Homo sapiens: one gene and its partners. The protein of the gene in region 2 purifies or fractionates together with the protein of the main gene of each other region. This does not show direct contact. Each region holds a gene or a part of one and is shown on either strand. Other genes may lie near its edges. The genes, in order: TRMT6, ZNG1A, AGAP1 and ERF.

The links.
Region 1: the proteins of ZNG1A (region 2) and TRMT6 purify together in Homo sapiens (affinity purification with mass spectrometry; 3 studies listed by BioGRID and IntAct, with this or other methods). This does not show direct contact.
Region 3: the proteins of ZNG1A (region 2) and AGAP1 purify together in Homo sapiens (affinity purification with mass spectrometry; 3 studies listed by BioGRID and IntAct, with this or other methods). This does not show direct contact.
Region 4: the proteins of ZNG1A (region 2) and ERF purify together in Homo sapiens (affinity purification with mass spectrometry; 3 studies listed by BioGRID and IntAct, with this or other methods). This does not show direct contact.

What each region holds. Positions count from the first base shown.
Region 1 is NC_000020.11:5,936,404-5,941,403, forward strand, and holds the end of TRMT6 (tRNA (adenine(58)-N(1))-methyltransferase non-catalytic subunit TRM6), read right to left. Parts: intron 4,943-5,000; coding exon 4,840-4,942; intron 4,737-4,839; coding exon 4,650-4,736; intron 2,324-4,649; coding exon 2,132-2,323; 3' UTR 825-2,131; downstream 1-824. UniProt on the Homo sapiens protein: Substrate-binding subunit of tRNA (adenine-N(1)-)-methyltransferase, which catalyzes the formation of N(1)-methyladenine at position 58 (m1A58) in initiator methionyl-tRNA.
Region 2 is NC_000009.12:175,789-184,829, forward strand, and holds the start of ZNG1A (zinc-regulated GTPase metalloprotein activator 1A), read right to left. Parts: upstream 3,269-9,041; 5' UTR 3,182-3,268; coding exon 3,028-3,181; intron 2,033-3,027; exon of another isoform or gene 1,981-2,032; coding exon of another isoform or gene 1,935-1,980; intron 1-1,934. UniProt on the Homo sapiens protein: Zinc chaperone that directly transfers zinc cofactor to target metalloproteins, thereby activating them.
Region 3 is NC_000002.12:236,118,849-236,127,042, reverse strand, and holds part of AGAP1 (arf-GAP with GTPase, ANK repeat and PH domain-containing protein 1), read right to left. Parts: intron 6,852-8,194; coding exon 6,596-6,851; intron 3,125-6,595; coding exon 2,921-3,124; 3' UTR 1-2,920. UniProt on the Homo sapiens protein: GTPase-activating protein for ARF1 and, to a lesser extent, ARF5. Directly and specifically regulates the adapter protein 3 (AP-3)-dependent trafficking of proteins in the endosomal-lysosomal system.
Region 4 is NC_000019.10:42,251,790-42,259,852, forward strand, and holds the start of ERF (ETS domain-containing transcription factor ERF), read right to left. Parts: upstream 3,340-8,063; 5' UTR 3,211-3,339; coding exon 3,189-3,210; intron 2,847-3,188; exon of another isoform or gene 2,748-2,846; intron 2,111-2,747; exon of another isoform or gene 2,053-2,110; intron 1-2,052. UniProt on the Homo sapiens protein: Potent transcriptional repressor that binds to the H1 element of the Ets2 promoter. May regulate other genes involved in cellular proliferation.

The DNA of each region.
Region 1 (5,000 bases), on a different chromosome or scaffold from region 2:
AGTACTGAAATCTTATTCTGTGGGGTGGAGGGCCCAGTGGCCTCTGCTTACCAAGCCCTCCAGGGGAATCTAAGTTTTCCAATGCTAAGTTTGCAAACCACAGAATTCAATCATCTGTACGCAGATTAAGTAAACTATATGAATGAGAAAAAAAAAAAATACAGATTAACTTATGCTGTTGGCATTGGTAAGATGAGTTCACAAGGTAACATGAGCATGCAGGGCCTTGGTAGCTCAGACCCCAGACCCCTTGCTCAAGAAACTCAAGAGAAAAGATTTAGGGAACGGAATGCAACTTGCAAACCAGTAACCAGGAGACCAGCCACTACTGATTCTAATCTATGCAGTTTTCTGTTCTCCTTGTCCAAACTTGATTAGCTACATGTGTGTGTGACACCAGCTTGCAACACACTCCGTGAGGTGCCAATCCAGGCATGTCCTCTACAATAGACAGACCACGTCACAATCGGCCGAAAGCCCACAGGACATCACTGACTGCATCACTGTTAGAAGAATCACAGTAGGAAACATTTTCATTTTTATTTATTTTTTGAGACAGTTTCACTCGTCGCCCAGGCTGGAGTGCAATGGCGTGATGTCGGCTCACTGCAACCTCTGCCTCCCGGGTTCAAGCGGTTCTCCTGCCTCAGCCTCCCAAGTAGCTGGGATTACAGGCGTTAGCCACCACGCATGGCTAATTTTCTAATTTTTAGTAGAGATGGGGTTTCAACATGTTTGTCAGGCTGATCTTGAACCCCTGACCTCAGGTGATCCGCCTGCCTGGGCCTCCCAAAGTGTTGGGATTACAGGCATGAGCCACTGTGCCCGGCCGACATTTTTATTCTTTAATAGCAATTAGGATAAAGGACTCAAAATTGTACTTAGTAATCACATTGGCATAGCACATGCTATTTGGAAAAAAAATTTTTTTTCTGAGATGTTCCTTGCTGTATGATACAGGCCTATTCTATGACAGGAGCAACGCAAACGATGACCATGTTCCAGTGAGCAAGACTCAATCTCTCAAATGAACAAGAGCCTTGGCTGATTCTAAACACTTTCTTTGCTACAGCACATGATCAAATGATTAGAGTTTTTCAGAGCTTAGAAAGGGTAACCATCTAATCATGACAGAGTTCTTCAGCATTAATAATCAAGAAAGGCACTTTAGGGACATTTGACAAGGAATGACACTAATACAATGAGAATTGGTCTAAGTCCTGCACAAGACTTTGATACAGTTCAAATAGACTGCACACTCTTTCTGTCCCCATGTGTACATACATATTCATACAGGTGGTACAATCTATGTCTCCACTTGCATGTGTATGTATATATCTGTGTATATATAAATATATGTGTGTATATATACCAACATCTATATACATATGTGTGTGTGTGCAAATGTGTATCCATAAGACCATAGAGGGGGAAAAGACATTTGTTTCCTTTAATTGAATAGTACACAAAAATTCTAGTCACTTTATTTAGAACAAAGAATAAGAGTATTGGCAAATTAATGCAAAAAAGTACCCTACTAAACCTTTCTATGCACAAAAAAGAGCAGTAAAATAAATACTCAGAACTTTCCCAGGTTGTCAACTATTAAAATAAAACCTCAGCATTTCAAAAAAGCTTATTCCGCTGCAGGAAAGAAGGTGGACATTTTTGGTACCATAATAAATCACACACTCACACATCCATATTGCTTAGGTTGAAGAGAACGGAATGAACAGAGGAAATTTCTTCCATGAATTGCCCTCCTTTCGGTACCCGCCATGTTTTAGTTACGTTGTATTATTCCACTTAGCTTAAAATATAAAGTCTTGTAGAAACACATTTTTAGGATGTTGAAGTTCTCAAGATATTTGCACAGAATATTTAGAAGTACTTAGAGGAGTTTTGTTAAATGCAGTTGGTCATACTACATACCCCATGGTTGCAGTTTTGACAGACCAAATGCATCTGTGTCAGAAATAGACAAAAGGCATATACTCCTCCTTCCTAGAAACGGGTACATAGACATGTTCTTATTCTTGGGATATGAAAAAACAAGTAGTAATGGCATTTAAAGTTTAATTACTAACTGTATAATGCCTGAGAACAAAATTCAGAGCAATTCTCAAAAGGGTTAAGAGTCAGACTCTGGGCATTTTCGTTTTTTAGCTGCAGGCTCCTCAGTCTCGTGTGATTCTAAAGTGCTTGCATTAGATTTGAGGCTGGTGTCTGCTTTAAGGTTGTCCATGGCAACGGTGAAGCCGGAGAGAAGATAACCCCCACCTCCACTCATCAGCAGTTTAGGATGACTTCGATCTGGCAAAACCTAATCAAGACAGAAAAGACATTCATGCTTTCCTAAGACAATAAAGTCCATGCTAACAACACATATACCAAAAATCAGAATTTAAACAACACAGGTTCTCTTGATGATTTAAATGGACATTTTTTTTTCTTTCTTTTCTTTTCCCTCCCTCCCTCCCTCTCTCCCTTCCTTCCTTCCTTCCCTTCCTTCCTCCCTCCCTTCCTTCCTTTCTCTCTCTCTCTTTCTTTTTAAGAGGCAGGGTCTCACTGTTCCTCAGGCTGGAGTGCAGTAGTGAGATTTTGGCTCACTGTAACCTCGAACTCCTGGCCTCAAGTGAACCTCCCACTTTGGCTTTCCAAAGTGCTGGGATTACAGATACGAGCCACGGCACCAGGCTTTAAATGGACCAACTTCTAAGGACTAATTTCTTCACATTACAATGCAAAGAAAAGTGTAGAAATTGGTTTAATTGATTTTCTTTTGAAAAATAAAACTGGCCGGGAATGGTGGCTCACGCCTGTAATCCCAGCACTTTGGGATGCTGAGGCAGGTGGATCACAAGGTCAGGAGTTTGAGATCAGCCTGGCTAACATGGTGAAACCCCATCTCTACTAAAAATACAAAAATTAGCCAGGCGTGGTGGCACACAGCTGTAATGCCAGCTACTCGGGAGGCTGAGGCAGGAGAATTGCTTGAACCCGGGAGGCAGAGGTTGCAGTGAGCCAAGATCGCGCCACTGCACCCCACCTGGGCGACAGAGCGAGACTCTGTCTCAAAAATGAAAAAAAAAAAAAAAAGAGAAGAAAAAGAACTGAAGCAGTTTTCAGTTCAGCCCAGGTTTATCTAGAAACTGAAGCATGTTTCTGGCGGAGAATGGGTAATGGTCTTGGCAGTACTCTAGAACTGTGCATATAGCTTTCTTTCTCCTGGCTTCAGGAAGCTTCATGGCCAATAATGGAGCTTGGGTCTATGGAGAAGTTGCTACTGAATGTACTACACTCCAAACCTCCCTTCCCCGCTACCCTGTTAACTCTGCCAAGGCAACTTCTCTCCTCTTTCTCCTGTAACCTTAGCCAAGACAGACAACCTCCACAAAGGGCAGGGTTACCCAAGGCTCAATAGCATCCCCACTACAGTATGGTAAGACACCAAGCAATGAGACGGGGCCTACGGCAGCATGGAGGTGCTCCCCTCAGATCTCCCTTCATGAGGGAACAGCTGAGAGGCATTCAGGCAGTAGAACACCTCCAGCTGCCGCTCCTTTGGGATCCACTGCAGCATTCATACCGAGGGAGGCCATGGGTTGCTTCCAGTCAGTAACTGAGCATGGGTACCAGAGCTGGAGCATTTCTGCTTAACACAGGGCTCCTTGAATGGCGATCTTTCCACTTGGGCTCGCCATCAGCCTCATGGAGACTTTCTCCAGAGCAGCACTGCAGGCTCTTCCTACCATCCTCCTTTCTCTACCCGCTCCTTGCCCAGGCATCAACCTGCACCACCAATCTTGCTCCCTCTCCCCTTATCTTTCTAAGGCATTTCCCTCAATAAATCTCTTACACTTCAACTTCCATCTTAGCATATGTCTTCCAGAAGACCTGAACTGACACAGAGCCCACCAGTAAATCCTGAAAACTTGCTGCAAAAACATCCTGGCAGAGAGGAAAGGGCCAGTTTCTCATCCACCTGGGAATTTTGCTATTGTCAATTACATCATCCACAGTGATACTGAGGCCTTGGGGAAATAAGAACCATAATGGTTTGCATTTTAAATGCCTTTAGGGCAGAGTTACAGAGTAATATATTCTGACATAACAAGAGAAAAAAAGGGTCACAAAAAGTCAGGGGCATATTCTCTGAGTAACAGCCATGAGAAATCTCCATCCCTGTAGAAAGAAACAGAGACATCTCTATTTTTATTTTGTTTTGTTTTTGAGAGAGGGTCTTACTCTGTCACCCAGGCTGGAGTGCAGTGGTGGGATCTCGGCTCACTGCAGCCTCGACCTCCAGGGTTCAAGCAATCTTTCCACCTCAGCTCCTGAGTAGCTGGGACTACAGGCACCTGCCACCATGCTCGACTGATTTTTATATTTTTTGTAGATACAGGGTCATGCCCAGCCAATTTATGTATTTTTTTTTGTAGAGACAGGGTTTCACCATGTTGCCCAAGCTGGTCTTGAACTCCTGGGCTCAAGCGATCTGCCTGCCTTGGCCTCCCAAAGTGCTGGGATTACAGGCATAAGCCACTGTGCCTGGCTGAGATAACTCTATTTAATGACTTCTAGTACTACTGCAAGGAAAGTCAAGTCTCGGGAGGGCAGCTCTTGGGACTGGCTGTAAGAACACGTACCTGATAATTTCTGAGCCAGGTTTCAGACAGCCTGAGGTTGATGACCCCTCCCCTCTCCCGCAGTTTTGTGTAGCATTCCAACAGAGGCTGCAGACAACAACAGAATTCTGTTAAGAACTACTTCCTGGGATGCAGTTTAAGAATCAACATTCAGACATAAGAATTCCTGCCCATTCCATTCCAGTATTACCTCTTTGTACTGACAGTAGACCACAAACGGCCTTGAAGGGGCCACAAAGTCCAGCAAAGACAGCAGCAGGGGAGTGGGGTGGAAACGACTAGCTACAATTAAACTGTAAGGAAAATGCCAGACAAATTATTTCTCTACACCCTCAAAGTGGAGCACAGGTT
Region 2 (9,041 bases):
AAAACATATTTTTTGTAAATAAAAAAATTCAAAATAATTTTAAAGATACAAAAAACATATAAAGAATCCTAACGTTTTTGAGAATTTGCGTGCTATTTTTCATATATTATTTTAGCATAGAATATCCTAGAGGATAAGATTAAAGCATCCTTCGAAACCTGTTGCAAAATACTTTATGTAGACATAAAATTTTATAAATATTTACAAACACTCCTACAAGTTGAAACAGCTTCTTCAACCTAGCCTAACCTTCCCTAAAATTTACACACAATCTTTTATTTATAATGACCTTTTATTTCAACATTAACAAGACGCAACTTCAGGCTGACTATATGGCTACTTATAGTATGCTTTAAACAATCTATAAAAGTTTTTATGAAATGGGGAATAGAGCCAGGTAGTGTCAACAATGGACAGAATGTTCAGTAAGATAAATTCATAAAGCTATACCAACTTTATCCAGCAGGTGGCATATAAAACCCAATATGTCAATCTCCAGTAGAAAAAAAATAGTCTTGTGAACCGTACACACTAAAATTCATAGAGGAAAAAAAGAAAATCCTAACTGCATAGTATTGTAGTTCAATTGTATGACTATATCATTTCTTTATCTTTTTTTTTTGTTGGACATTTGGTTTGTTTCCAGTGTTTTACTATTACAGTGCTGCTAAAAACTTTTACATGTAGGCTATACATGTCTTCTGAAATACATTAAGTTTTCTAGTATATAACTAGATCTTCCTATAACTAGGAAGATTTTACGGAGTATTAGGGTATTAATATCTTTTAGGTCATATTCCTTTCAAAGCTTTTTAACAGATGAAGGCTTATATTTAGAGTACTTTAGGAAGCTCAACATCACAAAAATATGAAGTATAGAATGGAAGAGAGAGACTTAGGGCAATGAGGAAAATCTTAAAACCAGTCCAAGCCTGAGACAGAGGCCCTGAACATGAGTGTTTCACAGGGCAGTGATGTGAAAACTGAAAGGAAAGGGTGAATGTAAGAAATCTTCTAAGAGAAGATTTACTAGGGCTTTTTAACCATATTATGAAAAAAAAAAACACTTTAAGACATAGCTCATTCATTCGAAGGTTTCTAATACGTTACAAATTTATGCTGGGCCTTGGTGAAAAAGTGAACAAGATAGTCTCTGCCTTCATAGAGCTTAGAAATATCAAGGGAAGGGGGGAATGGAGGGGAATTCAGTGAATAAGGAGGCAATTATGTCACAGGGTGACATATTCAATAGGAGATGCACAAATTGCTATGGAGAACCTAAGAGGGACATCTAGCCAGAGGAGTCACAGTAAAAAAGTACCTATTCCAAGGGGCTAAAACACTTGGCACCTTTGAAGTAACATTAGTTCATTGTGCGGGGCCAATTTGGCAGGCTGGAAAGGTTGGCAAGATCCAGATCCTACAGGTCCTTGTAATTCATGTTAAGGAATTTGGATTTTAACCCATAGGGATGCCACTGAAAGGTGTGACGCAGTCGGATTGACATTTATAAAGATCATTAAGGCTAACATGCAACGAATAAATTAAAGGGCAGCAAGACTCCAGATTAGTCAGGAGGCTTTTAGAGTATTCCAAATGGTTGGGATCACAGAAGCAGGATTTGGGGGGATGGTAACAGACGAAGTTTCAGACATGTTAAGTTTTAAGTTGTAGGACATCAAAATAGAAATTACACAGGTGTGTAGCTAAAGATGGACAAAGGGGGAAGGAGGAGGGAGCCTTAAAAAGAAGCCAGAGAAGCAGGTGGAAAAATCAGAAGAAAAATGTAGTAGAAGCCAAAAGAACAGCGTTTCAAAAAGGGAAAATGGTCAGGGATAGGAGTGAAACTATCCCTAGATTCAGCAACAAGGTTGCTGGTATTAATTCTCACTCCTGAGCTTCAGATCATTTTCTCCAGTGATCTACTGACCTACCAGTGAGCAATACGGGAAAGGCCCGAGCGGCACGTTTGAAATACATTGTTTTGGACAAGAAATTTGTTCATCTTCTCAGCAGAGCAGCCTCTGAATAACTGTGGGGAAACGCCAAAAATAAATTCCTTTATAAAATTACTTCCGAGCAAAAAACGGGAATAAACTTACAGTCTACAAAGTTTTTAAAAAAAACAAAAGCAGTTATTTCTTATTTTTACATAAAAGGTCACGAAGTGGCCCAAGTCTGTACCTGTCTCTAGCAACAACTAGGAATATTATTTCCCGGAAACAGTATTTTATTTATATTTCTTAACTTTTTCCAAACTTCTAATACAGCCATATATTTGTTCTAGCCCTTCTATTTAACTGTAAGGTTTAAAAATATATTTCTCAAACTTTTCCAGTAAGAAACTTCTAGTGTAAGTGCATAAACCGCCCTTCACGAAACTACCAAGTTCACAAACTTGTGGTTTCGAGTATCCCTGTACACTCTAAACGTTCTTAGTTTGAGAAATAGTCTTGGAGGACAGAGATTTTATTCTTACTTCCTACGCAGTGGTTTACAAACAGACCTCAAAAAAAAAGTGTTTAAGATAGGAGCGCTCCCTGCCAGCTGGCTGGAGGACTCTGGCTCGTGGGGAAGGGGAATCTACTGACGAAAGCCCCACGTGTCGGGCATTTTACAGACGGGACATCCTTTAATGGCAACAGGTAGGTGGTTCCGGCCCTGTTTCACAGGTGACAGGTATTTCTCCATTTTCAGGTGAGGTAGATGAGCGTCAGGAAGGTAAGATAACTTGGTAAGAGGTCACAGAGACAATTAGGGGGGCGTGTCTTAGCGTCAAAGCCTTGCTTCAAAGGCTAACTTTCCATCTCACTTGAGAAATGGGAATCTAACGCAGAGGGGGCCGGGCATCATTAACTCCCAAGATGAGAGGCAACCCATACGAGAAGCAAGTGACCCAGCCCCGACCTCGAAGACATTTGCTCTTGATCATGAGGCCCCAATGCCTCAGGAGAAGAGGCACCGGCAGCCCGCAAAATCCCATGACACCAGAGGTCACGCCATTTTGTGACTGGGATGGTTAGTTACCTAAATACCCGGTGATAATTGTGACTGGGATCTTGGCGCCGAGGCCAGACTTTTCCTCCTCCTCGCTTTGCGTCGTCTCAATGGGAACCAATTCAGGACAATCCTCCTCCGCAGGATCCTCCTCCTCATCCGCAGATCCAACAGCCGGTAACATTCCGGCCTACAGCACGTCCCTACCTCAGCTGAACCGCTGGGACCAACACGCCGTACCGCAGCCGCGCACGCCCAGCACGCCACTCCCGGCCTGCCCGGGGCCTGACGTCATCACATCGCGACGCTCGCTGATCCCGCCCGGATTACCTGGGCTCTGGACGAGAAGCGCCTCGCCCCTTAGCCACACCCCCCGGGGAGGTGGGCTCTCCCCGACGACAGCTGGACACGCCCCTGGGCGTGTTCTGTGAACCTGAGCGACGCTGCGGAGAGTCCCTAGGGCGCACTAACCACCTGTCTGAAGGTGTCACTGGCGCCTAGAGCCTTAATAAGCTACTGGCTGTAGGTAGAGCTGAGGCCAGTCTGCTGGAAATCTGGAGTGGGTAGCCTGACCTAACCAGTTCCCACAGGGCATAGATTTTATCACCTTGATTTTTTAGTCTCGTTAAAAAAAAAAGTTTTAATTCATAGGGGAAAGAATGGAAGGTTATAACATTATAATTTTAATTGTAATTTTTATACCTGAAGGATAACCAGTGACACTTTTTTCTTTTTTTATTATTACATATTATATATGTAATTCCAAATTTTTAGTATTCATGCATCACTTTTATTTACTTTTTTCTCATTATTTATTTGGACCTCAGGTAACCTAAGTTCATTAATCATATTTGCTGGTGCATGACACTCTCATCACTAATCCATAGATAGCCCTTCTTTCTAATATAAATTTATAGTGAACTCCTTTGACGTCATTCCTAACGTAAAAGCATTACCAGTAAGTTACACGTACCTATGTGCACCGCCCCTGCTTCCAATCCACAGCCTGCCCCATAAGATAGTAACAACAGTCATGAATTGGTTCTGGATTGCTGATCATTCCCTGTTTTCTTTTTAATTTTATCACATATCCCACGTACGTACTTAGAGAATATGTTGTTTAATTTTGGGTGTTTTTGAGCTTCATAAAATTATCCATATAATATATAAACTCCTGAGGCTTGCTATACTTTTCAGCATCACTGCTGTCTTGTATTCTATTGTGTGGCTACACGGCAATTTATTCATTTCCTCTCAATTGTTCCAGGTTTTGCTCTTATGAACAGGGCTGCTATGAACATTTTTCCTGATATATGTGTGTGCAACTTCCTCTTGAGTGTCTGTGTAAGAGTTGAATTGCTGGGTCCTAGATTATTCAAATGTTTTACTTCACAAGAAAATGCACAATTATTTTTCAAAATGTTTGTACAAATTGATACATTTTCCCAGCAAATTATAAGAGATCTCATTGGTCTGTAGGTCAATATTATCAGGCATGCATTTTTCACCAATCAATTGTGTACAAAAGAAGACTTCATTGTGATCTTCATTTGCATTTCCTTGATTACTAACAAGGTTGAGAATCTTTTCATGTGTTTTGGCAATATTTAATTCTTAGAATGACCCTGTAGAGTGTTATCCCTCTTTCAAACATGAGGCACCAAGAGTTAAGTTACTTGTCCAGGTTAGGTCATAAAAATCTATCTGATGCACAAGTAGAATGTTTTACTACTATCCTGATGCCAAATAAAAGGTTGACTTTTCCTTCCTTCTCTGAAATTCCCCATAAAATATACTGTGTGTATTCCATTAGTTCTACTGATAAGGACATATAACTTGAAAGTATTTATCACGCCTTTTGCAGAACACAGTTAAGACAGAGGGTTTATATTTGTGCAAATGAGTATATTATATTCACACATACACTCGGTCTGAGAAATCAGGTCTTGAATGCTTTGCCAGCTTTGACAATGTAACCATGAACCAGCTGAGGAAGAAATAAGGCAAATACCTTAGGCGTGGTGGTTCAGTTCACTTTATTCTACCAAAGGAGAGAAGCTGTGATGGGTAGCCCAAAATAGATAGCTTACACCCTAAACACAATGGTTCATAAGCTTTTTCGTTTCAGGAATGCTATGAAGTATTGATTTTTTTGGCAACCTAAGGGAAGGAGTAACATTGCACCCACAGGCATCACACTATTTGCTTGATGTCCCTTCAGCACTGCATTACTGCCTGAATAGCAGCTATTACAGCCCTCACCACCTTCTTTGACATATTTTTTAAAGTACATTCTTGTGGGTTCCCAATATGGCACTGGCTGAATGTTATACTAAAATCCCTCTTTCTGTTTTTTGAGACAGGGTCTCACTCTGTCGCCCAGCATGGATTGCATTGGCACGATCACAGCTCACTGCAGTCCTAAACTCCTGGGCTCAGGTGATCCTCCCATCTCAGCCTCCCAAGTAGCTGGGACTCCAGTCATATGCCATTACATCTGGCTAATTTTTCTTTTTCCTTTTGGTAGAGACAGGGTCTCACTATGTTGTCCAGTCTGGTCTAAAGTCTCATCTCTAACAATGAGCAGCCTGTAACCTATGAGGCCAGCTCAGTCAAGTTGACCAAATAGCATTGTTGTAACAGTATGTAGCCTCAGTGACAGCAAAATAAGTTTTACACATTGGCCAAAAATTAAATGCACCACAAATATCTATCAACTGATAGACAACTAAAATGTGACAAATGGATAAACAAAATATGATCTATCCGTACAATGGAAAATTATTTGGCAATAAACAGGAAAAAGGACTGATACCTGCTACTACATGAACCAATCTTGAAAACATTATGGTAAGTGAAAAAGGCTATTCACAAAAGACCACACGTTGTATGATCCCATTTACATAAAATATCCAAAATAGGCAAATCTATAGAGACAGAAAGTGCATTAATGGTTCCCAGGAGTGGAGGGCTGGGGAGAGACTACAGTGGTTTTTGGGCAGTGATGAAAATGTTCTAAAATTGATTATGGTGATGGTAGTACAACTCTGATTATACTGAAAACCATTGACTTGTACACTTTAAATTGGTGAACTGTATCATATGTGAAATTTATCTCAATAAAGCTGCTATTCTTAAAAGAAATAAACACCTATCTGTGCATCAAAATGGGGTGCCTGTGTACATTTGTAGAGAAACACTGTCTTCAGCAGTTTCAAGTTCTGGCCTCAGGCACAAGTATAAAGATTACAGCTTGATAAAATTTTTCCTTTAGTCTGTTCCATATTCCTCTTCAGTTAAATTTTTATCTATGGATTCTGTGGAGTCCTGTCATTTTATTTTCTCAGATAGAGTTGTAATTTCAGTTCTCCCAAAATAGCTGGGCATGACTTTTTATTTTTATTTCTTTTTTCTTTTTGAGATGGAGTCTTGATCTGTTGCTGAGGCTGGAGTGCAGTGGCACGATCTTGGCTCACTGAAACCTCTGCCTCCGGGTTCAAGTGATTCTCCTGCCTCAGCCTCCTGAGTAGCTGGGATTACAGGTATGCACCACCACGCCCAGCTAATTTTTGTATTTTTAGTAGAGACGAGGTTTCACCACGTTACCCAGGCTGGTCTTGAACTCCTGACCTCCTGATCCATCCACCTCAGCCTCCTAAAGAGCTGGGATTACAGGCGTGAGCCACTGTGCCGGGCTTTTTTTTTTTTTTTTTTAACTTATAAGAGGGTTAAATTGTTAAATTGTTAAATTGAAAATGCCTTTTTAAATAAGTATGAAATTTCTTAATTATAATATTTTAGAATCTATTACAGTTTCTGATGTAACTTAAAAATTCCTCCTCATTTAGCTTTGCTATTTTGTCTCATTTACTTTACGGTAAAACAACAACAACAACAATAGTAATGTGTGGAGCCCGTAAGCATCTGATAGGCACTGTGTGAAGCACATTAAATGCATTATCCCATTTAACTCTCCAAGGTAAATACTATTTGTGTGCCCATTTTATAGATGAGGAAATTGAGGCTTAGAAAAGATAAATACCTTGCTCAAAGTCATACAATCAGTAAATGGCAGCCCTTGGGCTCAATCCAAACCTGCCTGACACTAAATCTCCTGCTCTTTTAAACCAGAAGATCTGCAAACTTTTCTGTAAAACTAGATGATAAATATCTTAGTCTTTACAGATCAAAAAGCAAATTTGAGGACATTGTGTAGGTACTTATATAATATAAGAGAGAGAGCAAATGTCTACAAGTTTGAAATTTGAATTTCATGTATTAAACAAAATTATGAGAGGCCATTGTTTTGGACTGAGCTCCTGCACTAATCCCAAGCAGACCAGACCAAACCAAAATGGAGTCACTCATGGTAAGCACCACAAAATCAAACTAAAACGTTAAAAAACAGGTCCCAAAATAGACGAGTTTTTTTTCTTCTCCTGAAGACAGAAGATTCCAGTATAATAAGGAAGTCCTCTCTGCTCTATCCCTTACAGAAAAGTAACCCAAAGTAACAACAGATTACTTACAAAAAAGCAATCTCAGCCAGACACAGTGGCTCATGCCTGTAATCCCAGCACTTTGGAAAGCCAGGGCGGGTGGATCACCTGAGGTCAGGAGCTTGAGATCAGCTTGGCCAACGTGGCAAAACCCCATCTATACTAAAAATACAAAAATTAGCTGGGTGTGGTGGCACACGCCTGTAGTCCCAGCTACTCGGGAGGTTGAGGCAGAAGAATTGCTTGAACCCAAAAGGTGACGTTGCAGTGAGCCAAGATTGTGCCACTGCACTCCATCCTGGGTGACAAAAAAATAAAAAAGTAATCTGATGTTAACCAATCAGTTTTTTTTTTTTCTATACTGTTTCCTTGTTCCCACCTTACAAAATCCAGTGTTCTGCTATTTTCCAATGGGATTAGAGACCAAATAACTCTATTTATGATGATAAAAAGTGATGTCAATGCCTAAAGTTTTGGGCAACCTCAAAATTAATCATCCTCTCAAAATTGACAGGTTGACCAAAAGGAGGAATTGTTAAATTCATTGTGGCCTAAAGCTGCCTCCTTACATATTTTAAGTTTACCCTAAAGGTTTCCCAGTACATAAAAAACTATATTTCAACTTGATATGTAAAACTTGATATGTAACCTACTCTTGTAACAAGTAGTGAGTCTCAGCCAATCACAGCAGCTGAACTTCAGCCAACCACAGGCAGCCAACTCTTCAAACCAGGTTCAAATAAGGCAAATGCTCAGCTGTAACCAACCCTACTCTGGTTCTGGGGGCTGCCTAATTCACAGATCATTCTTTACTCAATTAAACTCTAAAGTTTTCCTTTCAACATGTATAATTTTCACATCACGAAATAATAATCTTCTTTAATTTTTTTTCCAATGTATTAAAAATGTAAAAACCATTTGCAGGCTACACAATAAATGGTAGCAGGCTATAGATTCCCAACTCCTGATCTAAGCTAATATAATATACTGTTTTCTTAAGCAGAGTTAATGAAATTTTGCAAAATTGGATCCTCCTTGCTCTTTTAAACTCAGTTTGTAAATCACTCACCATTAAAACAATCCTGGACCCTCAAAGGGTTAGGTACCACTGTGCCAATTACCACAGTGCTAATATTCAGAGGAAGATCTGAAGCTGAGAAGCTTAAACTTTTTTCCCAAGGTCACTAATACCTGGCCTGGGAAAGACCTAATTAAGGTGAAACTTGAGTCTTTGCATTGTAGTAGGAGTCCGCCTAGGTGGGAGCAGAGCAGAGCAGATAAGCTCTTAAACTGTCTGGATTTCAGCAGCTCAGCTTTCTGACAATAACCTTGCCATATGTCCTTTGGCACAATTCCCTACTAATTCCCTACTACTCCCCTTTGCTTGGTTCTTCTCTCTTGAATAGTTATGTTAATCACCATAAGAAAAAGAACTGTAGCTATATCCAAATAAGAAGAAAGCTAAAAATAATACCAACTTGGTTTTGTTTTTCGTTTTTTTCTTTCTCATTTTTGCAACTTCCTGCAAAGGAAACAACATACTAG
Region 3 (8,194 bases), on a different chromosome or scaffold from region 2:
TCTGAACAGGAAAGGTGAGGGGGATCCTGCAGTGGTGATCTGTCATCGTCACGTCACAGAACTGAACATGGAAATGAACAACGAAAACTCCACCCCCTTCTCAAACGAGTTATTCCTAGCTCCGCCCCCAGTCCTTGCCTCTCCCAGCCTTGGTGGTAATTAGCTTGAAAGTGGGAACGAGAGTGCGGTCCGCAAAGAAAGGACTTCTGGTTAGACACTGAAATACAAACAGACTGCCAACGAGCTCTGGGCAAAGCTGCCCCGTCTTCTTTTTTTCGAAAGACCCTCAAAAACTGCCTTTCCTTCTGCTACCAAAACTTGGGCCCTAGAAAGTGGCTGCGGAGTGGAGCAGATGGACATCACTGAGAATGGTAGAGGAGGGGCTGTGTTTTCTGAGGGGGAGTCATGGCAGCTTGTGCTGGGGGCCAGGAAGGGAAAAAACCAATCTGGCATTCAGGTTGTGGAAGGCAAAGTGAAACAAGAAGTCATTTGGGAAAATATTATATTATAAACACATAGAATAATATGTACACGCTCATATACATCCCAAAGAGAAGCCTCAAGGAGTTCCGTTTCTTCTCAAAAGAAACTTCACTATGATAAAGCATTCCTATAGTGGGAATTAACTACAATGAAATAATTTAACAATTTCATTTATGCTATATCTGTGTCCACTACAGAGTCTACGGTGAAGGCTGTGTGGAGCGAGTGTGTCTAGTGGACTCGAACACCAACGCGTTCTTCAAAAATAGGCAATGACCTGTTTTTTTCTATTCACATTTACAATAGCTACACAGTGATGAAACGCAGACTGAAAAATCAAATGGCAGGACGATGGAACTGTCGTCAAGGTTCTCAGACTTGTGGCTTCTGCACCTGTTATACTTTTGGATACGAGTGAGCTCCACTTAGCTTCGTTAAGATTAGAAATTTCCATGAAACACTTACCCACATATAAATTCTGTGTAAAGCTTTATTTTTTTCCCCACCTACTTTAATTTTTTTTAAAAAGTGAAATAAGAGGAAAAACTCTTATAAAATATAAGGTTTAACATACGAGAGAGCGAGGAACACCCCGGAGGCTGCCGGTGCGTGTGGCTTCATGTTTCTGTGCTACATGAGTCTAGTGTCCTCATCTTCCATTGTGACAACCCTTCTCCCCCCATCACACTGTCAATGAGCTCTAGGCAAAGCTGCCCCGTTTGCTTTTAACCTAAGGGATGCTGTGGTTTGGTTGACTACATTTGACTACCACCACTGAAGGCGGCGGACGTCTGAAGCGGCTGGATACCGCAACGATGGAAAATCAGGCGAGGTACTAGCGTGGAGGGCCGGGCTGCCAGGTCAAGGTCGTCTGGGTTCTCAGGAGCCAGTCTGTGCCACAGAACCATTGGCAGCTGCCTTCGTAAGGCACCTCGGTCTGGCATTCGGAAAACCACCCCATCTTGCCAGAGTCCCTTGGTCCTTGGTTAGCAAAAGCCGTATCCGATCTAAATCATGCTTTCAATCATGAGAGACCACATTCCTTCTTTTTCCTTTCTAATATACTCCAGTGTGTCTTTTTTTTTCTTTCTCAATTTTAATAAGCAAATTGTACCACCATCTTATTCTGAGATGCTCCTTTTCAAAAGCCGTAGATCACATTAATGGAAGTGTTTACTGCTGGGAATATTTTCCATGTACAATGATCTGTAACCCTCTTATCTCAACTAGTTGCACATTATTAGTTCACATCCAGTTCAATTTATAAATTAAGAGAGGTGCCATTTGTCTGTACAAAAATCAATGCATATTTATGAACTTCTTTTATTCAAATATATTTTCACACATCTTATCTAAATACATAACACAGAAGCCTGTGTGACTTGGGCAACGTGGTCCAGGAGGGCCTGAGACTAACACATCCACCTCGGCAAAAGGACATCAAATATCTCTTACAGTCGGAAAAAACAGCCTTTTGTGTATTTCCTTAGTTTACGAAATATACTCGAAATGCTATTATTAGCTGAATTTGTGGTTTCCTTTTGAGTTTCTGAGTTATTCTTATTTATTTTTCCCATTTTGTTTTTGCACCAAGGAGACCGGAGTCAAATAATACTCAGCGACTGATTTCCTCTCTTTGGACTGAAAAATTAAACAGATACTAAATGATGACAGTGAATTTAGAGAGGGCTCCAAGGGCTTGAAAGAACATGTCTGGGATAATATGGTGCTTCTAAGAGTATTGCAATCACATCGTGGCAATCACCGGCGCGTGCCGCGTGACTACCTCCTCGGCTAATATGCTTTCTTCTCGGCGATGACTAATCACGTTCTATTAAACAGCAGTAATGCGGGAAGAACTCGGCTGTACAAGTGTAATGAAGCCAGTATTCTCCCTGGACAGATTAGCTACAACTGATTTGACACACACCATCATAGGGGCTTCAAACCTGACAAACTCTGTGCTTGCTTCTGATTTATGCCGTCGAGCTCCTCAGAGAAGAGATGGAATCCAAGTGTTCCGTTTGGTAGAGGGGAAATGTACTATGTGCTCAACTGCCAGTTAAGGAAAGTTGCCCCTTCTCCTTGTTCCTCGCCTCCCCTCCCCCTCGCGTCCCCATCCCTTGTGCCACCAGGACAAGGGTCCTGCGCCATGTGCTATCATCAAAGGGCCGAGGCCCGTCGCTCTCTCCTGTGTGTGGTTTAGGGGAGTTTATGAAAAGGAGCCACTTCTGCAGTCTCCCGGCCGCCTCTTCGCCCCTTGAGGGATGTCCAGGTTTTGTGATTTTGTTTGGGGTGAGAGTGGGTGGGCGGGAGGGAGGTGGCCACCAGGAAGAGGGAGGGGATGCGACGGGACTCACGTGCTGCGACTTCTGAGCGAGAATGCGGCGAGGCTGCCGCGTCCCAGGTGCGGCGAGCAGGCGGGCACGGCTGTTCCTCAGATGATGGTGGGCACCCTCCCACTGCTGTTGTTCCGGTTATTGTTTCTCCTGGACAGGTTAGGGGTGGCCATGAGCACGAAGCGCTCGTCGGGGCAGCCGTACTGCAGCAGCACGTCGATGCACTCCTGGCTGGAGGCCTGCCGGGCGTAGGCCAGAGCTGTGTTCCCGTGGGCATCTCGGGCCGTGACGTCCACTCCGTACTGCGGAGGTAAGGGAGCCCACATTAGTATCATGGGGGATGTGATGGAGGGAGGGGGCAGGGAAGCTTTCTCTCAGCCCTTGCATGTGGCTTGTGCTTGGACAGCGGGGCCAGCTACACAACTGGCTGGGGTGCCAGGACCATCCAGTGCTGGTGGCACAGCCTGCACCCGTGGCCAGCGGATTCTTTTAAGGAAAGAACATGTCTTTTTTTTTCAACTGAAAGCCCCTCCTTTGTGCAACATTAAGGAATCAAAGATAACTTTAGTTTTGCTGTTTCTATTTTGACTTTCCAATTGCACAAAGAAAATCATTGTTTTGATCTCAGAATTTTCATTATAGGAAATACACAAATAACACATAACAGCTCAAGAAGAAAAAAAATCACCCATAATCTTACTACTTAGAGATAACCTTTGTGAATTAGTGTATTTCCTTTCAATGAGTTTTCTTTGAATCTACATGTATATGTACATAATTGAGATAAGACTGTACAAATAATTTGTATTTTTTTCATTTTTTATTGATTACTATACTGTGATCATTTTCTTACATCATTAAAAATTACTCAGAAGCACAACACAAGCTGGGTGCGGTGGTTCACTTCAGCCCAGGAGTTCAAGACTAGCCTGAGCAATACTGGGAGACCCTGTCTCTAGAAAAAAACACATTTTAAAAAAATTAGCTGGGCACGTGGCATATGCCTGTGGTCCCAGCTATGCAGGAGGCTGAGGTGGGAGGATCGCTTGAGCCTAGGAGGCAGAGGCTGCCGTGGGCCGACATCACACCACTGCACTCCAGCCTGGGCAACAGAGTGAGACCCTGTCTCCCCACCCCTCAAAAAGCATGACATATGCAAGTCATACAGTATTCCACCACATGAACAGAATTCAGAACTCTCCCCTCAACTGTGCACACTTTGTAAAAATTGTCACTGGAGCCGGACACGGTGGCTCATGCCTGGAATCCCAGCACTTTGGGAGGCCGAGGAGGGCGGATCACAAGGTCAGGAGTTTGAGACCAGACTGACCAACATGGTGAAACCTCGTCTCTACTAAAAATACAGAAATTATCTGGGCATGGTGGTGTACGCTTGTAATCCCAGCTAGTGTCAGGAGGCTGAGGCAGGAGAATTGCTTGAACCCGGGAGGCAGAGGTTGCAGTGAGCCGAGATCGTGCCACTGCACTCCAGCCCGGGAGACAGAGTGAGACTCTGTCTCAAAAAAAAAAAAAAAAAAAATTGTCACTGGAAGAAACAGTGCCCGGATGTATGTCCTCACATAGAATCTTTCTTAGGATCTGTGATTGATTATTAGAGTGATGATCAGAAGGGGGAAAATATGAGGTTAAAGTACACAACGTTTTTAAGCTTTTTGCTCATGAAAAAGAGTGAATTCACTTCCACTTCTGCCAACTCACAATGTGTGGGAGTCTGAGGCCACTCAACAGCATGGAACCAGCGCCATCAAAGGAATTTTTGCTCAATTGGAGAAGCAAAGATGGCCTGTAATTTATAACTGTGTCCCCCGCTCCCACCAACAATTCACATGTTTAAGTCCTGACACCCAGTACTTTAGAATGTGACTGTATTTGGAGACAGAGCCTTTATGGTGGTGTATTAGCTTAAATGAGGTCACAATAGGGTTAGTATCTATATGAGAAGAGGAAAAGGCTGGGCTGGGAGGCTGATACCTGTAATCTCAACACCTTGGGAGGCCGAGGTGAGAGGACTGCTTAAAGGCAGGAGTTCAAAACCCATGGGCAATATGGTAAGAACGTAAGTCTACAAAATTTTTTAAAAACTGCCATTCATGGGGGTGGCATGCCTGTGGTCCCAATTACTTGGGAGGCTAGGGTGGGGGGATTGCTTGAGCCCAGGAGTTTGAGGTTACAGTGGGCTATGATTGTGCCACTGCACTCCAGCCTGGACGACAGAGCAAGACTTTGTCCCAAAAAGAAGGGGGTGGGGGGAAAGGAGAGAGCTACCAGGAGCGAGTGCAGAGGAAAGGCCCTGTGAGAACATAGGGAGAGGGCGGCCGTCTACCAGCCGTGAGAGAGGCCTCGCCAGGAACCATTCCTGCTGGCCCTTTGATCTTGTACTTCCAGCCTCCAGAACTGTGAAAAAATAAATGTCTGTTGTTGAAGCACCCCTGTCTGTGGTATTTTGTTATGGCAGCCCTAGCACACTACACACAACTCTTATTTAATGTGCATTACATCACATGTATGACTCATGAGCAAAAGGGAGTATCTGTGTGATTTTGGTGTAGTGTCTATATCTCACTCATTCACCAACTGCACCCATCAAAAAAGTCAGATCAAGGCTGGGCGTGGTGGGTCATGCCTGTACTCCCAGCACTTTGGGAGGCCGAGGCGGGTGGATCACGAGGTCAGGAGCTCGAGACCAGACTGACCAACATGGTGAAGCCCCGTCTCTACTAAAAATACAAAAATTAGCTGGGCGTGGTGGTGCGCACCTGTAATCCCAGCTTCCTGGGAGGCTGAGGCAGGAGAATTGCTTGAACCTGGGAGGCGGAGGTTGCAGTGAGCTGAGATCGCACCACTGCACTCCAGCCTGGGTGACAGAGCGAGACTCTGTCTCAAAAAAACAAAAAACAAAAAAGTCAGATCAAAAACATGCAGAAACCTGCTGCACTCTACCCATGCTGCTGTAGAACGTGCTGCTGTGCTGGACTGACCCATCCTGCCTTGCGGGTGGAGACAGAAGAGCCTCCAGCTGGGTGTCCCACCTCTGGGTGCTGTCTCCACTTCTGGGCACACACTTGCCTTCCCTATCTGGGGAGCCTCCCTGCCGGCAGCTTTCTGCCTGCCTCTGGTGGGAACCTGCCTCAGCAGAAGCCCCAGGGGTCCACAGGCAGCCCCTAAGTGGGCGTGGCTTCTCAGACGTAGCTCCTGGGTGGCACAGGCAGGGCCTCTCTGCACAACCACTTTATCCTTCTCTTTCACTCCTTCAAGCATTGTGACACATGCTTCAATAGGAATGTAAATAATACTTTTCCCCAGTAGAAATTAATCAGAATGGTTCGAAAGAAGTCCTTTGACAAACTCCTGCCACATCAGACCTCAAAGTTTAGGGTCCAGTATTTCTGTGTTAAGTGAATAAAAACACCAAAGGTTTGGAAATGGGGAAACCCTACAAGCCATCCCGTTAATACACCGCCTTCTCTCCAGAAGATGATGGAAATGAAAAAAGAGGGATAGCACCAACCCTGCTTGATAAGGGGCAATCACAAAGTTGCAATTTTCAGAAACTCTAGCAAGTACTGTACAAGGAGGACCGGCTGTCTCTCCGTAAGGCCCTCTGCTCTTCAATCAGAGTTTCCCATTAGGAACTGTTTCCACTTGCAGATCGAGAACAACAGCCTTCTGCCAGAAAGATGCCCACGGAAGCAGAACAAAGCAGAGAGTGCCTCCTGTGGCCCCGTCCTCTGCCAGGCGTGCCGACCACCTACCCAGATCAGGAGCTGCGCCAGGACCACATTCCCCTTGCGGCAGGCCAGATGCAGCGCCGTGCGGCCGTCTCCCTCCCCGCAGGTCTCGTTCACCTCGTCCCGGGAGCCGTGTGCCAGCAGCAGGATGGCCGTCCGCAGGTCCTCGTCGGCGGTGGCCCGCAGCAGGTGCTGGCCCAGGGACAGCTCCGTGCAGGGCAGCGGGGCCAGGAAGAGCTTCTGCTCGTACTTGGCACGGATCCACCGTTCCTTCTCTTCCCTGCAAAGAGCCACCAGACAGGTGCAGTCACGATCAGGCCCGAGAACACAGGCTGCCAGCCCCTGCCCAGTGTGGTCGGGAGAAGCCGAGAGGGAAGTGAAATAACAGAAAGCAAAGGTCTTCACTCGGCACAAAGCCCCCTGGGGGAAACGTTTATCCACCTTCACAAAACAGTATCCTCACCAGCAGCATCAGCCCAGAAATGCAGATTCTCAGGTCACGCCCCAGACCCCCTGAATCCAAACCTCTCGGGGTGTTTTAAGAAGCCCTGCAGGGGATTCCAATAGGCCCAAGGTGTGAGAGCCGCTGATCTCAGGCTCATACACTGCCTTGGTGCTGCTTCTGTCACTTTTAGTGTAGAAGCTGTCCTTGGAAAGAAAACTACCAAGTGAGGGCTCAAGGCCATGGCCTTGGATCAGTGGCTCTCACACACCGATGCACAGGGGAAACCACCCTACTGCCTGGGACCAGCACGATGGAAGCACGGTCTCCGGGGCCGAGAGCACGGACCGCACGATGGAAGCATGGTCTCTGGGGCCGAGAGTTGCTTTACTGTAAGCAGGACTGTAAGTGAGGGCTATAGGACACTTGGCTGGAGCTGGGCCGGGGGTGGGGGGAAGGGACAGCCGGTGCGCTCCCCACACCTGGGGGTGACCATGTGCTTTTAGCTTCAAACTCCGAAATAGGGGGTGTGTGTGGACTCCCCAGGGTCTCCAAACCCTTTCAGCTGAGGAAAACATGGCAACAGACTCACGCAGGAGAGGGTGGAGACTCCAATGAGGAGGTTTAGCAGGGAGATGCAGCTTTTGGAATCTCCAGATACTTGGGGAAGGCTTAAGTGGAAAGGACAGAATGTCAGGAATGGCTGAGTTTTTTGGGGGAAACTGTTCCAGGGCCTGGGAAACAGGCAGGTAGCTCCCAGAAGCCAGAGCTGAGCCCAGAGGCAGAGGAGAGGACAAAGCTGGGGAGGGGGTGGATGGGGTCGGAGGTGTGGAGAGTGGATGATGCTGATGCCTGCCCGCCCCGGCCCCAGCATCACAACCTGGCTGAGATGGGGCTGCCCGACCTGGCCAGTGTAATACATGGTCTCCTCCTGGGGGGTCTACAGAGGATGGGGACCCTGCTACACATCTGTGGGGAGGGCTAAGAAGGAGAGGACAGGATGAGATGAGAAGCTTAACAAATAGAAGAGGAAACCAACAGTAAGGCATGTTTATGTTGACCCAAAGGAAGGACCCCAGGCGAGCAGCTCCTGTACTTTGTGGCTACTGATGATGGTTTCTGGTTTCTCAAAAAAGAGCGTGACAGATACTGAAAACTCAAGACTCTGCAGCACCGCTAGA
Region 4 (8,063 bases), on a different chromosome or scaffold from region 2:
ATCCAGGGAATCAGTAGTTCCTGCTCCCACAGGGACCACCCCCTCCAAATCCAGAGCTCACTGTAGGCCCCCAACTCCTGCCCAGACTGGGCTGCAGTACCACATAGCCCCCGGAGTCCCTGCCCCATTCAGATATATCCCAGCCTTCCACCAGCCCCTCAGGGTGCCAGGGATATGACCTCCAGCTGTTCACAGACCAGCACCAACAGCCCCTGTTCCATTTAAAAGTGACAGCCTTTGACAACCCCTTCCAGAGACCCCAGAGCACCATCGCTCTCTTGGGAATCTAGGTGTTCAACCCATTATCCTCACCCTTCTAGAGAATCCAGATCACAAGGTCTCCTGCAAGGCCCAGGGTCCTTTGGAACCCAGGTGACCCAGCCACCAGCTTCATGGACCCTCATATCCCCTCCAAAAAGCTCCCAGCCCCTCTCAGGGAACCAAGCTCCATGTTACTTCCACCTCAGCCCCAATCTGGCTCTAGACCTAGAAGGGGGGCCAAAGCCCCTGAGACATCAATCTGGGGGTGGGGGATGTACTGACTTCCACCCTCCCCCCAAAATTAAAGCCACCCTTCCCAGCCCACCCGCCCCAGCCTCCGTGTCCCGGTAACCAGGCAACGTGTGTGCAGCGACAGTCCTGGGAGCGGGGGAGCAGGAGGCTAAAAATAAACTTTGCAGAAGAGAGGGAGTGAGAGAGACTACATGCAACACAAAGGGAACTCGGAAAGGAGGTGGGGGGGCTCTGGAAAGGCCTCAAGCCGCATTCTGGGAGCTGTCCCAGGCCCCCTTGTTAAACCCCTTCCCTGAGCAACCCCTCCTCCAGGGCCTGGACCCTGGCTCCCACTTCTGGCAGGGACCCTTCCCCACTCCCAAGCCCACCACAACGGCGGCTTTCCTCATCGGACACAGCATACATGAAGGCCTGTTCCCGGCTTTGGGGGGGGGAGAATGAAGAGGGGGTGACGTCAGGGTGTCTCAATGGGGCTCTGTTCCCCAGGCCTTGGAGCCAGGAGCCAGGCACGGGCAAGGGGAGCATGTGTGAGTGTGCTGTGTATGCGTCCACGTGCTTAAAACAGGGAAACACCAGACCTGCACGGAGGAAGCTTGGGGGTGCGGGACCTCGGGAACATGGGGGCCAGTGAGGCAGGGAGAGAGCAGGCACATGGAGAGAGGGGTTCAGGAGACTGCGAGACAGAGTGCAGAAGTGGCAGCAGTCAGACAGCAAGGGCTGGGATGGCGAGGTCCCAGAAGCACACCTGGGTCCCACAGAGGCGGGGTAGGGATTCTCCCAGACAGACTATGCAAGCCTGGGGGGACAAAACTCCTGGGCACCCCCCAACCTCACGTGACGGCCCAAACTTTTTTTAAGGGACTATGAGGGTCGGAAGGGAGGAGTGGTGGCAGAGGAAGAACACGCCGGCCTCCTGGGGGGCCCCACCACCTCCCCCACTCCAGGCGGCCCTCTATGGCGCCAGAGCCGGGAAGAAAACAGGAAGTGGGAAACAGCCACGGCAGAGAGAGGGACCGGGATGGAGAACTGGATGGAGGGGTGCGGAGCGGCAGGCCAGGAGGCAGACGGGAAAGATGCACCGATCGGAGGCCATTCCAGGCCTCCTTCCCCTCCCCTCCCCCAGCCGGAAAACCCACACACTGTCCCGCCCCCCGACAGGGTTGGGGAAGCGACCCGCGGATCCTATCAGGCCAAGGCCGGTAGCAGGGAGAGAAGATGAAGCGAGGTTGTCTGGGTGCCTCGGCCTCCTCCTTGGGCGAGGGTAGGCTCCTGCTGCCCCCAGGGCCCAGCCACCCGGGAGCGAGTGGAAGCCGGGGGAGTGTGTAGGACGCACGTGACTGACCCTACCGCACTCCGCACCCCGGCCCCACCCCCAGGGCCCCTCCTCGGTCCGGGTCCCAATCCCCTGGCGCCGGATCCCAGCTCGGAGCCCTTTAAGATTAAGCCGCCCCCACCCGCCGAGCAGGGGGATGGGGATGGGAATGGGGTGGGAATGGGGTGGGGATGGGGTGGGGTGGGTGGGCCGGTCGGGGCACACACCCGCACACAGGAGCCCGAGCCGCCGCCGCCGCCGCCGCCGCCGCCGGGGGAAGGAAACAAGTTTGAACAGCGGCGCCCGGCCCCCTTCCCCCTCCCCCGTCCCCGCCCCGGGCCGGATTCCGACGGGGTAGACGGGCAGGGGGCGGCTGGGACCCCTCCCCCTGCGCGCTCGGGCGCAAAGTCCAGCCCGCGCGAGCCCGGGGGCGGCGGGGGAGGGGAGGGGGAAAAGTCCGAGTGGGAGGGGGAGTTAATCCCGCTGCCCCCCGCCCGCCGACCGAGGGGGAGGGGAACCTTGGCCCCTTAAGGAGGAGCAAGTTGGCGGGGAAGAGAGGGGCGGAGGGAAGAGACGGCCCGCTGAAAGAGAAGAGGTGGATCCGGGAGGGGGGGCGAGGGGGGAGCCTCTGCGTCTCCCCCCACCTTCCCCACCCTCCTCAACCCCGGGCCACCGGTGGCGCGGGAGGAGGGTACCCAGGTCTCCCCGGAGCCACCTTAAAGCCGCGCGTTCTAAGGTCGGAAACAAAAAGTTCCTTTTTCGAACGTTCGGGCTGCGCTTTGGAACTTTGCGACTCGGCGAGGGCGGGGGAGCGAGGAGCCGACAGAGGCGGGCGGGGGAGGGGCGGCGCAGCCAGGACCCCGAGTCCCGGGCTCCCCACTCACGCCCTCCTCCTAGAGGCCATCCCGTATCCCCCGCTAACCTGGTGCAGGGCACGCGCCGCCGTGAAGGTCACCAGCAGGACCGCGCAGCGCAGAACCAGGGATAGCGGGCCCGGTGGACGAGCCCCCCCGCCCCGCACACGTCCCGGCCCCCAGAGTGCAACGTGACAAGAGCGGAGGGGAAGGACCCCGCCACCCCCGTGATCCCGGGAGTGGGGGAGAGCCCGGCCTGCGGGGTCCCGGTAGGGATACAGGACCAAGACCCGCAGCACCCACACCACTCCGCCCGGAGCCAGGAATCGGGGGTCCCAGGCAGCAACCCCGCTCGCGCCACGAGAAGCAACAGGTCTCCAGTGCTTGAGGGGTCCCCCAGAACTGGGGATCACTCGGGCTCCCCCGGACCCCTTCAGCCCCCCCAAAGTTTCTCCGTTCGGTTTCCCGGGGCAACAAGTCTCCCCCACACGTGCTGCCCCCGCCCCCACCTGTGTCCGCCGGGGTCTTCATGCTGGGGGGCCCGGGGCGAAGCGCCCCGATTCCGGGCCGCGGCTCCCGGCGCCCTCGCTGCCCCGTCCCGTCCCGCGCCCGTCGGGCCGCCCTCGCCGCCTCACCCGGCCTCGCCTCTCAGAGCCTCTCCCCTCCCCGCCGCCGCCTCCCGGGTTAATATCGCACTCCGGGGCCGGGACGCCCACGCCCCCCGGCCGGCGACGTCACCGCCGCGTCGCCATGGAGACACTGCGCCCGCCCCCTCCCCGCGCACTCACACACACGCTCGTCGGCGCGCAGCCACTGAGGACCGGCCGGCTCTGGGCTTAAAGGGGCCGCGCGGCGGGGGAGGGAGGAAGGAGGGGGTGGGGGTGGGATGGGGTCCCGCGGGTCATGACCCTAGTCAGAGGCTCCGAGTCTGCAGCTAACTTAAGTCTTCGGCACTCGCTACCTGCTGCCCCTCCTCCTCTCCTGCCCACTGCGGGCTCCAGAGTTTCTTTTGGGAGCCTGTATGGGAAAACGGGGGGCCCTTCCGAGGAAGCGGGGGTCAGAAACTTTTGTGGGGAGGGGGCAGAATCTTCTCTGCAGAGGGGCGGGGTCAGGACCTTAGAAGATGATGAAGACCACAGCATTTCCCAGCTTGGTTTTACCCAACCCCCCAACCCTGAGCCTGAATGGGGGCAGCTGTCCAGGGGTGGGGTGGAATGGGTGGGATGCATTTCCCAGCATCGGAAATGGGGAGGCGGCTGTGCCCTCCGCTCCTGTGGGGATGGGGTCTTGGCTTCCCTGATAACCCCCGTCCAGCTGGGGAGGAAGTGACCAGAGAGAATGCATTTGGAAGCCCCCACCACCACCGTCCCCAGGCTGCAGCTGTCCCGGGGATAGGGCTGGCGCCGGAGGTCCCCCCACGTCCACTACTAGGACCGGGGGTTCCGGAGGCGGGGCCGGGATACGAGGGGGCGACCAAAGTCTGAACAAATGTGCTCCCAAGGGGCACTGAGGGTCGCCAGGAGAGAGGAAGACAGGGCTTAAGATCGAAAGCCAGAGCGTAGAGAAGTGTTAAGTCTCCGTTCTCTGCCTCAGCCGGGAGGGAAGGATGAAGCCTGAGGCTCTGGGAAACAGGAAATCACAGCGCAGATCTGATGGAGCCCAGGAGCCGGCAGCAGGGTAGAGGCCAAATAGAAGCAATATTCACAGGCATAGCCTGGAAACAGAGTCTCAAAAAAGACTCTGAGGTTCCGAAGGAGGGGCGTATGGGTGGCGGGCGGGAGTTGGGGGGGCTGGGTGGGGGACGAATCCAGAAGATGGGCGGGGAGACAGAAAAGTCACAGATAGGGAAGGCCTGCGGAGCTCAGGCTCCCGGTACCCAGGGCTTCAATCCCAGCCTCCTCGCTTGCGGGGTACCTAGTCCACCTTAGACAGGCTCCTCACCAGTGCCTAAAAAAAAAAGTCTCAGGCCTCCTCCTTGGGGAGACCAAGGGCTCCAGGGAAGCTTTCCCCCACAACCCCCGGGAATTATGTAACCTTGCCTACGGACAGTACAGCTCCCCCACGGATATTGTAACCCTCTGGGAGCGGTGTGGTCCAGCAATAATAATCATCTTCATTGTTCGAATAACAGCTCCCGAATTCCGAGTGTTCATGATGTGCCAGGCACCGGGCCAAGCATTGTCAGGGGCATCTTCTCATTTAATCCTCACAAAATCCCAACGAGGGGAATTACTGCTGTTATCCCCATTTACAGATAAAGAAAGTGATGCTCTCTGAGGGAAAATCAGTCCACTAAATCTTACAGCCAGGAAGTATTGGAACTAAGATTCGAACCCAGATCTAACCAATTCCAAACCACCACATTTACCCTTTACCATTATGCTTTATTACCTCTTTTACTACCCCCTCCAAAAAAAAAAAAATGCAGATTTTCAAAGATACTACATCAGGGCCCGGCGCAGTGGCGCACGCCTGTAAACCTAGCACTTTGGGAGCCGAGGCGGGAGATCACTTCAGGTCAGAAGTTCCAGACCAGCCTGGCCAACATGGTGAAACCCCATCTCTACTAAAAGTACAGAAATTTGCCAGGCGTGGTGGCGCACCTGTAATCCCGGCTACTCAGGAGGCTGAGGCAGGAGAATCGCTTGAACCCAGGAGGATCGCTTGAATCCAGGAGGCGGAGGCTGTAGTGAGCCGAGATCGCTCCGCTGCACTCCACCCTGGGTAACAGCAAAACTCCGTCTAAAAATAAATAAATAAAAAGGCTGGGCGCGGTAGCTCACGCCTGTAATCCCAGCACTTTGGGAGGCCGAGGCAGGTGGATCACCTGAGGTCTGTAGTTCGAGACCAGCCTGACCAACATGGAGAAACCCCGTCCCTACTAAAAATACAAAAAATTAGCCGGGCTTGGTGGTGCATGTCTGTAATCCCAGCTGCTCGGGAGGCTAAGGTAGAATCGCTTGAACCCGGGAGGGGGTTGGTTGCGGTGAGCTGAGATCGCGCCATTGCACTCCAGCCTGGGCAACAAGAGCGAAACTCAGTTTCAAAACAAACAAACAAACAAAAAGATAACACATCAGTAACAAACCCAGTGACCCCTACCCTCCCACCAGCAAGACAGAGATGAGTTACACCCAACCTTTTTTTTTTTTTTTTGAGACGGAGTCTCACTCTGTCGTCCAGGGTGGAGTGCAGTGGCCCCATCTCGGCTCACTGCAAGCTCCGCCTCCCGGGTTCACGCCATTCTCCTGCCTCAGCCTACTGAGTAGCTGGGACTACAGGCGCCCCCCACCACGCCCGGCTAATCTTTTGTATTTTTAGTAGAGACAGGGTTTCACCGTGTTAGCCAGGATGGTCTCAATCTTCTGACCTCGTGATCCGCCAGCCTCAGCCTCCCAAAGTGCTGGGATTACATGTGTGAGCCACCACACCTGGCTGTTACACCCAACCTTTGCTACTTCTTGTCTCTGACAAGGCAAGTGAACTCAGTTCACCTCTTTTTTTTTTTTTTTTTTTTTTTGAGATGGGGGTCTCACTGTGTTGCCCAGGCTGGATTGCAGTGGCACAATAATGGCTCACTACAGCCTCGACTTCCCTGCCTCAAGCAATTCTCCCACTTCAGCCTCCTGAGTAGCTGGGACTACAGACACATGCCACCATGCCCAGTTACTTTTTTTTTTTTTTGAGATGGAATTTTGCTCTTGTCACCCAGGCTGTAAGTGCAATGGCACGATCTTGGCCCACTGCAACCTCTGCCTCCCTGGTTCAAGCAATTTTCCTGTCTCAGCCTCCTGAGTAGCTGGAATTACAAGCGCCCACCACCATGCCCAGCTTTTTTTTTTTTTTTTTTTTTTTGAGACGCAGTTTTGCTCTCCTTGCCCAGGCTGGAGTGCAGTGACACCATCTTGGCACATCGCAACCTCCGTCTCCTGGGTTCAAGCAATTCTCCTGCCTCAGCCTCCCGAGTAGCTAGGATTACAGGCATGCGCCACCACGCCCAGCTAATTTGTATTTTTAGTAGAGACGGGGTTTTTCCATGTTGGTCAGGCTGGTTTTGAACTCCTGACCTCAGATGATCCACCCGCCTCAGCATCCCAAAGTGCTGGGATTACAGGCGTGAGCCACCATGCCCAGCCAACCCAGCTAATTTTTTTTTATTTTTAGTGGAGTTGGGGTCTCTCTGTGTTGACCAGGATAGTCTCCAACTCCTGGGCTCAAACGATCCGCCCACCTTGGCCTCCCAGAGTGCTGGAATTACAGGTGTGAGTCACCCTGCCTAGCGAAGTTCACCTCTTTTTTTTTTTTTTTTTTTTTGAGATGGAGTCTCGCTCTTTCGCCCAGGCCAGACTGCAGTGGCGCTATCTCGGCTCACTGTAAGCTCCGCCTCCCGGGTTCACGCCATTCTCCTGCCTCAGCCTCCCGAGTAGCTGGGACTACAGGCACCCGCCATCACGCCCAGCTAATTTTGTGTATTTTTAGTAGAGACGGGATTTCACCGTGTTAGCCAGAATGGTCTCGATCTCCTGACCTCGTGATCCGCCCTCCTTGGCCTCCCAAAGTGCTGGGATTACAGGCGTGAGCCACTGCGCCTGGCCAAGTTCACCTCTTTGAGCCTCAATTTTCCTCATTTGTAAAATGGAGGTGTTAATAGATCCTACATGATCAAGTTATTGTGAAAAATCAGAGATGTGGCCAGGCGAGGTGGCTCACACCTGTAATCCCAGCACTTTGTGAGGCCGAGGCAGGTGGATCACCTGAGGTCAGGAGTTCCAGACCATCCTGGCCAACATGGTGAAAACCCGTCTCTATTAAAAATACAAAAATTAGCTGGGCGTGGTGGCTGGCGCCTGTAATCCTAGCTACTCAGGAGGCTAAGGCAGGAGAATCATTTGAACCCGGGAGGCGGAGGTTGCAGTGAGCCGAGATCATGCCATTGCACTCCAGCCTGAGTGACAGGGCGATACTCCGTCTTAAAAAAAAAAAAAAAAGAAAAAAAGAAAAATCAGAGATGCAAAGTAAGTATGCAATAAATACTGTTAATAATTATTAGCAGAGTGAACTCTATGCCCCATGGATAACAAGAGCACTCTACCCTACAGACTCCAACTGTAACAACAGTTAGAGTAAACAGCAATAAACAGGCTGGCTGCAGTTTGTGTCTGACACATGTAATCCCAGCACTTTGGGAGGCCGAAGCAGGAGAATTTCAAGAGGCCAGGAGTTCAAGACCAGCCTGGGCAACAGAGTGAGACTCTCTCTACAAAAAATTTATTTATTTTTTTTTTTATTTATTTGAGATGGAGTCTCCCTGTGTCACCCAGGATGCAGTGCAGTGGCAGGATCTCAGCTCACTGCAACCTCTTCCTCCCAGGTTCAAGCAATTC